Linked DNA regions of Homo sapiens. The protein of the gene in region 1 purifies or fractionates together with the protein of each later gene. This does not show direct contact. Each region holds a gene or a part of one and is shown on either strand. Other genes may lie near its edges.

The links. Proteins that work in one complex are often made in the same cells at the same time.
Region 2: the proteins of TM4SF18 (region 1) and REEP5 purify together in Homo sapiens (affinity purification with mass spectrometry; 2 studies listed by BioGRID and IntAct, with this or other methods). This does not show direct contact.

What each region holds. Positions count from the first base shown.
Region 1 is NC_000003.12:149,326,751-149,331,086, forward strand, and holds part of TM4SF18 (transmembrane 4 L6 family member 18), read right to left. Parts: intron 3,670-4,336; coding exon 3,580-3,669; intron 1-3,579.
Region 2 is NC_000005.10:112,884,228-112,887,727, forward strand, and holds part of REEP5 (receptor expression-enhancing protein 5), read right to left. Parts: intron 2,957-3,500; coding exon 2,788-2,956; intron 1-2,787. UniProt on the Homo sapiens protein: Plays an essential role in heart function and development by regulating the organization and function of the sarcoplasmic reticulum in cardiomyocytes.

The DNA of each region.
Region 1 (4,336 bases):
AAATGCGATTATTCTTTTAGATGCACAGATGGTCCAAATTCGGCCAATGTGAACATCCCTGTAGGTCAACTCCTATGCCCTTTGACATACTCATGTCATTCTTTGAACATTTTCTTGCTTTCTGGCACAAGATGTTCCAGGTTCATTTTGAGCTTACCCTGCCATAGACCTGGAAGAAGCTGGGGTTTTGTTGTTGTTGTTGTTTTGTTGTTGTTTTTGAGTTGTAGTCTCACTCTGTCACCCAGGCGGGAGTGCAGGGCCTGATCATGGCTCACTGCAACCTCCACCTCCTGGGTTCAAACGATTCTCCTGCCTCAGCCTCCTGAGTAGCTGGGACTACAGGCACGTGCCGCCACGCCTAGCTCATTTTTGTATTTTTAGTAGATATGGGGTTTCACCATGTTGGCCAGGCTGCTCTCAAACTCCTGACCTCAGGGGATCCACCTGCCTTGGCCTCCCAAAGTGCTGGGATTACAGGCATGAGCCGCTGTGTCCGGCCAGAAACTATTTTTTAAACAAGTCTTGTAATTGGTTTTTGAGCAGGAAGTGATATGCCCAAAATGTGCTTTTGGAAGATTGCTCTGGCAGTGGTCACACAAGCTGGAAGTAAGAGACCTCAAAGATAAGGATCCAGCTTGGAGACAGATGCAAGTTGAGGTGACAAAGACACACATTGGAGGAAAACACATTAAGGAGGAAATGAGTAGCTGGAGATGAAAAAAAAAAAAAAATCCAGAGCTGGGGCTTGGATAAAAAGGAGACAGAAATAAGGATACCAAGAAAGGTTATTTGGTTTGGGGGAAAAATTAGCTTTAGAAATGTTGATTGCAGGGTGAGAGTAGGCAGCAGAATAGTAACATGCAGTAACCAATTGATAATAAATTCAAAAGCTGAGACCAGAAAAAGTAAGACCAACAAACCTGTGATTTTAGGAATAAAAATCATCTCAATAACATTTCTTTGTTTAAAATTATTTCACTGAGTATGACATTAATATATCCTCTTTATGGAAAACTGGAAAAAATATTCACTGGGAAGATCAGTGAAGAATTTCTTCATTGGGGGAAACTGGCAGCCATAGCATACACACACATGCACACGCACACACTACAATCTAATGAGTGGATACCATTGCACTATCAAGGTAAGCCTCAAAATAAAGTGGGAATAAGAATTTGAATCATAGTTTTCTTTTCTGTAAACTGTAGATGATGTAGACAGGAATGGTACCTATGTGACAGGGCAATTTCAAAAATAAAATATAATAAAATATTAGCTATTATTTCAAGTGCCCTTATTTGGCCAATATTTGCTTTCCAGGAATAATTGTCCAAGAATTTTGGCAGAAAACCAGACTCCATGCAGGAATGGAGAGTGCCTTAGTTCCTGCTGCTATAATAAAAATACCTTAGACTGAGTAATTAATAACAGAATTTTATTATTCACACTTCTGGAGGCTGGAAAGTCCAAGATCACTGGCAGATTCAGTGTCTGGTGAGGGCTCATTCCTCATAAATGGCACCTTCTATGTGTCCTCGCATGGTGCAAGGGAGGTAAGAGTACTCCCCTCAACCCCTTTTATAAGGGCACCACTCTCATTCATGAGGGAAGAGCCATCATAACTTAGTCACTTCCAAAAACATCCCACCTCTTAATATCGCCACAGTGAGAATTAGGTTTCCATGTGAATTTTGGAGGAACACATTCAGGCCATAGCAGATAACAACCAAGAAATGAATCAATTTTTATTACATTTTGGAAGTTACAAACTGATGCAGATTCAGTTTTTCCCACAATATGTACTTTGTTTGGTTTAAATGAAGATTAATTGCCAATATTTTACAATTGAAAAGTTTTACATAAAAATCCATATTTTTACTTTCTACTGAAAACTGAGAATTATTGCCCTACTTGATCATGGCAACAACTGGCTGGACTTCAGTAGCAGCTCCTTCTCCTCCTTAGATGGAAATTGTGCTCTGATGCCTACCAGGCTCATTTAATTCATTTATGTCACACACGTGGCTTCTGGGGGCATTTGAATTGGGACTTCTCTTCTAGAACTTACCTTGAAAAGGCCAAAAAGGGAACCCGGAGAATCCTCTCTTTCTTTCTCCTGCTGTTCCCAATGAGATGTTAGTCATCTAATTTAATGCTGATTATAAGACCCTTTTCAGACTATTTCTAGCATCTATTTGTGCTAGAAGTGCTAATAGTGAGTTAAGGCAAATTGAACATGTGAATTTTTATTTTACACTTAATATCACATATATTTGTTTTCTAGAAATTCTCTGAGTATCATAACTTGAATCTATACCTGAATTTATTATTTCCCCTAGGCAATTTTGAAATCTCTTCCATAAGTATATTACAAGTAGCTACTGGAGGATGACTGAGTCAACTGGTCACACACACACACACACACACACACACACACACACACACACGAGTGTATTTTAAATTTTCAATTCTTCTCCATAAGGGACACAGTACTAAATAAAGCAACGAATTTAATTTTTAAAAGACATTGGTCAAAGAAAATTTGCCATACAATCTTGACTACGCATTGAAATATCCTGGGGAGATTTAAAACATATCCATGCCCAGGTTGTACCTCAGACTAACTAAATCAGGGACTCTGGGGATGGGATTTAGGCATTAGTGTTGTTCCAAGCTCCCAGGTGATTGCAATATGAAGCTAACAGGTAGAAGCACTGCTGCAAAAAATGCCTACCAGATATCATCATAAAACTCCTCCTAGCTAATAATCACTTGTTCTCTTTGAGCCACAAGTGCTTCATCTATAAAATAGGAGCAATAATGACTTAATTCACTGAGTAAATGTGAAAGAACTATAAAGTGCTATGCAAGTGTGAATAAACGATGAAGAGGAGGAAGAGGATGAGAAGGAGAATGGTAGAAATGCAGGAGCACTGGCTTAGAAAATGCGGTTGTATTATTCACCCTGATACTATTTTAATTATTTTTCAAGTGCCAACTTAGAAAATGCACATCACATACACCCAACAATATGGATGAATCTAAAAATTATTATCCTGGATGAAAAAACCCAGATAAAAAAGACAAATATTGTATGATTCCACATATATAAAATACAAACTAATCTATAATGACAAAAAGTAAATCAAAGGTTAATCTTTGGGGGTTGGCAGAAATATTCTGTTATCTTGACTGCAATGGTGGTTTCATGAGTGTAGTCAACTGTTAAAACTCATGATATTGCATAATTTTAATGGATGCCACTTATTATATGTAATTTAGCCCTCAATAAAGTTTGTAAAGAAAAAATAGACTAATGGAAACTTAGTTAGGAAAAAAAAGTATTATTTCCTAATTTTAGGTATCTTTAAATGCTGATTTTCTGAAAGTGCATCAGTAGAACAAAAGTGGAGGAAAGACTAAGCAAAATGGAAGATGATCTTGGCAGTAAACTCTTGATCTCTGTACTGTACTCAACAGTAGTGAGGGTATAATACTGTCAATATTTTTGTGTTTCTGAGTGAGAGGAAAGAAAGCTGGAGCCCACTCAACCATCCTCAAAAAAACTGTTGCTCTTACCACATATTTTTTGCTGCAGTTTTCACTCTGGCAACATTTATAGTTGTTATTATTCTCCAGTACCAGAAGAACTGTTGTTACTATAAGCATCTATAGGAGGGAAGACATAAAATGTTAGCAATGAAATGCTAGTTTACATTTGTGCTTATAATCAGAGGACAGCGTCTTCAAGCATAGAGTCTGGGGTCAGGTAGATATGGATTTGAATCCAAGCTCTGTCACTTTCTAGCTGTGTGAATTTGAGACACCTTCTGTATAAAATGGTATCAAGAGATCGTCACGAGGTAATATATGTGACATTTTGAGTATAGTGGTTGATTCATAGTGACTGATAAATGTTAGCTATTATTATCATGGTTAGCAACCATCAAAAGCTAATGATTAAGGAGAAGTAAATGGATGGACAGGAGAATACCACCCTGGGCAGCAAAACCTGCCTTTCTCAATGACTCAGTTGTGGAGAACCAAGGAAAATCATTCAGCAGGCTTGGTAGTTTGCCAGCCTCTCTTCATTTACTGTCCTCTGGGAATGGAGGTGAGAGGCTCAGTTAATCTGAAACCATATCTCTTTAAAGTGACTTCAATTTCCCCATGCATTCAAACCATCTCAGGTTTAAATTGTTTCAATGTGTTTTGTCTGTATCAAGCCAACAAAGTGGGAGAATCAATGCATCTTATTTCCTTTTTTTAAATTTTATTTTAGGCAAAAGGCCAGAGCTCTGGAAAGAACATGTATTTCTTTACCATTATAATTTCA
Region 2 (3,500 bases), on another chromosome or scaffold:
ATGTGATACGTCTTCCAGCCTCCATTCGCAACTTCTTCCACCTCATCTCCTCCTGCACCCCTCTAGATCACTTCTTTTGTTGCTCCCACCTCCGGACTTCTGTATATGCAGCTCATTCTAAAGTATGATTCCCCATGGTTCCTTCTTTTACCATTTTCTATTTTTTTTTTTTTTTAGGGGGATAGGGTTTTGCTTTGTAACCCAGGCTAGAGTGGCACAGCTCACTTGCAGCCTTGATTACCTGGGCCCAAGTGATCCTCCTGCCTCAGCCTCCTGAGTAGCTGGCACCACAGGCTTGCATCACAACGTCCGGCTAATTTTTAAATTTTTGTAGAGAGCGGGTCTCCATAGGAGACCCTGTCACAAACAAGCTGGTCTCAAACTTCTGGCCTCAAGTGATCTCCTGCCTTAGCCTCCCAAAATGTTGGGATTACAGGCTGAGTCACTGTTCCTGATTCCTTTACTACTATTGAGTCTGATTCAGTAGAGCCTTCTGGTATAGATTTCCTAAACGTCTCTATTTAAAATCATAACCATCCCTCCAGTCCTTGGCCCCCCCCCATCTTTCTACTTGCTTTATTTTTTCCCTATATTATATGGTAAATATACTATCTAATTTTCAATTTTACTGCCTATCTCTCAACTAGACTGTAAGCTTCATGAATTCAAGGAGTATGGTCTCTTCGGTATGCTGGTTCACTGCCAGTGTTATGAACATGCTTGGCACATATTAAACACCTCAATAAATAAATATTTATTGAGTGAATTAATCAGAGCTGAGAGTGGACATTCTTTTGTACCCATAACAAAAACTGAACAGCATACTGAACCGATCAATCTGAACTGAATCAGGCTGGCCGTCAGGGCCTCCAAAGTACTGCTTCTGTCTGGTCAGCCTGCTGCTACAGCCTTGGCCAGCTAGGCCCTGCTGCTCATGGTGCCAGCCCAGAGAGGAGCCAGCCAGGAGATGGTGAGTGCTGTGGGGGTGGGGAGCCCCAAGGAGAAGGCACTGAGGAGGAAAAACAGGATTAGCAGCTCAAACTGCCAGAGACAGAAAGCAAGCTCAAATGAGTGACCTGAAACAGCAAGTGGTAGATTTAGAACAGAACCAAAAACTTTTGCTAGAAAATCAGTTTTTACAAGAGAAAATGCATGGACTCGTAGTTGAGAACCATGAGTGAAGACAGCACTTGGGGATGGATGCTCTGGTTACTGAAGAGGAGGCGAAAGCCAAGATAATTCCATCTATTTGATGCTTGACATCCCTAACTAGGCAGATGAGGGTAGAAGTTAGTTGTGGTGGGGTTGGAAGTAAACATCAACTACCTTCCCAGTATGATATCCTGTTGGGCATTCTGGACAACTTAGACCCACTAGTGTTCTTCAAATGTCCTTCCCCAGGGTCTGCCAGCCTGGAGCAGCTCCCAGAGGTCTACTCAGAAGGACCCAATTCCTAACCAGCCTCCCTTTCTCTGTCAGTGGGGACATTATCAGCCAAGCTTGAAGCTATTAATGAACTAATTAATTTTGACTACATATATGCCAAGCCCGTAGTCTGAGACAGAGAGCCAAGCTAATGCGGTAGTGAAAATCAAGGAAGCACCTCTCAGCCTTTTAGAGAATGATCACCCAGAATTCGTGGTCTCAGTGAAGGAAGACTTTGTGGAAGATGACTTCATTCCAGACCTGGGTATCTCCAATCTACTTCCATCCAGCCACTGCCCGAAGCCATCTTCCTGTCTACTGGATGTTTACAGTGACTGTGGGTATGAGGGCTCCCCTTTCCCCTTCAGCGACATGGCCTCTCCACTTGGTGCAAACCATTCTAAGGAGGAGACTGGCCAATGAACTCTTTCACCAGCTGGTTAGTGTCTAAGGAGTGATCCAATACTGTTGCTCTTTTCCTTGACTATTACACTGCCTGGAGGATAGCAGAGAAGCCTGCCTGCGCTTCATTCAAAACGTCACAGAGTGTACAGTCCTAGAGAATTCCCCTATTTACCTGTTTAAACGTCATAGATAACCCCAAGTATTGTCTTTTGGCATCCAGCAGTCCAAGGTATTCGATATGTTACAATTCAGAACTATAGGTTTTGAGGTTGTACTTTTTCTAAAGAGTGGTAGTTTGCCCTAAATATTTATTATGTGAGGGTGATTAGACAAGTGTCTTAGAGTAGACATGGAATTCATGAATGGCTCTTTATCATTTCTCCTCCCGCTTTTTGGCATCCCAGGCTTGTCTCTAGTTTTAGGTCCTTTAGTTTTCTTCTGCAAGTGGAGAGAACACATACCTGAGGGGGCTCTTTTCCCCTCATGTACAGTTCAAGTAAAGATCAAGAATTTTTTGTAAAATTATAGAAATTTACTACGTAAATGCTTGATGGAATTTTTCCTGCTAGTATAGCTTTTGAAAGGTGCTTTCTCCATTTATTTAAAACTACCTATGTAATTAAGTATAATACAAAAAAATTAAATAAACAATTAGAAGAGATGGACTTGCATATCAATATAGATGATTCTCTAAAATCGCTGCCTACCAAGGAAAGTCATTTTTCCTAATGTTCTGACTGAAGGCTACATTAAATGTGGCATGGAGGAAGAGTCTTGGGAAAAGTCGAGAACTGTAAGTGTTCTCAATAGGCAAAGACTTTGTAAAGAAATCCCAGAGTAATGTTGGCATTTGGCTGAGGGGTGGTGATAAGACAAGAAGGCCAGGAAGCCTGTTATTTGAGCCCAGTGTGTCACATCTCCTCTCACATGTGGGGCCATCTTGTTCCTGAGTCTTACCTTCTTTAGTGATGGCATCTGCAGTCTCTTTGGCCTTGTCTTTAAGGTCCTTGACCACACTGTCCATCTGGGACTCGTGCTTCAGGAAGAAAGGACGGATGATGCGCTTGTAGAGCAGTTCAGCCCCATTAGAAGGGCTCGGGGCCATGCACCACAACAGGAAGCCACACTGCACAGAAAAAGAGCCAGCATGGGTAACAGGAGGGTGGAGGGGGCACATTCTGAGAATACACACTGTCTTTCACTACTCTGGGGATGGGAGATGCCTCTGTTATTTTCCCCAAAGGCATTACCAGTGTTTTCTGCAGGTTAAAGGTGGGCTTTCTTTAGATGGAAAAAACATGATGAGTAATGAGCTGGTAAGGAAAAGCTGAGACTAAAAAACAAAAGGTAAAACACACCAGGTCCAGGAGCTTAACTATCTTCCTAACTTGGACCACGTTTTAGTATATAGCTGTAAGAGGCTTTTATTAATCATAACTCTTAGAAATCAATTTAAGAAAATATAGTACTTATCTGCATGTATAAAGCCCTGTACAGATAAGCCTAATATCTAGGAGGCCTGTGCTTGGTAGGCTTATCTTGGTAAGTTTATCACATTTATTCATCCTATTATGGAAAAAATACCTTGTCCATTCCTGAATTCTTCCTTTGGTGGACCTCAGTTTTGGGTAGATCTTAGCCTTCAAGGAATCTTTACAGTTGTTCTTCAT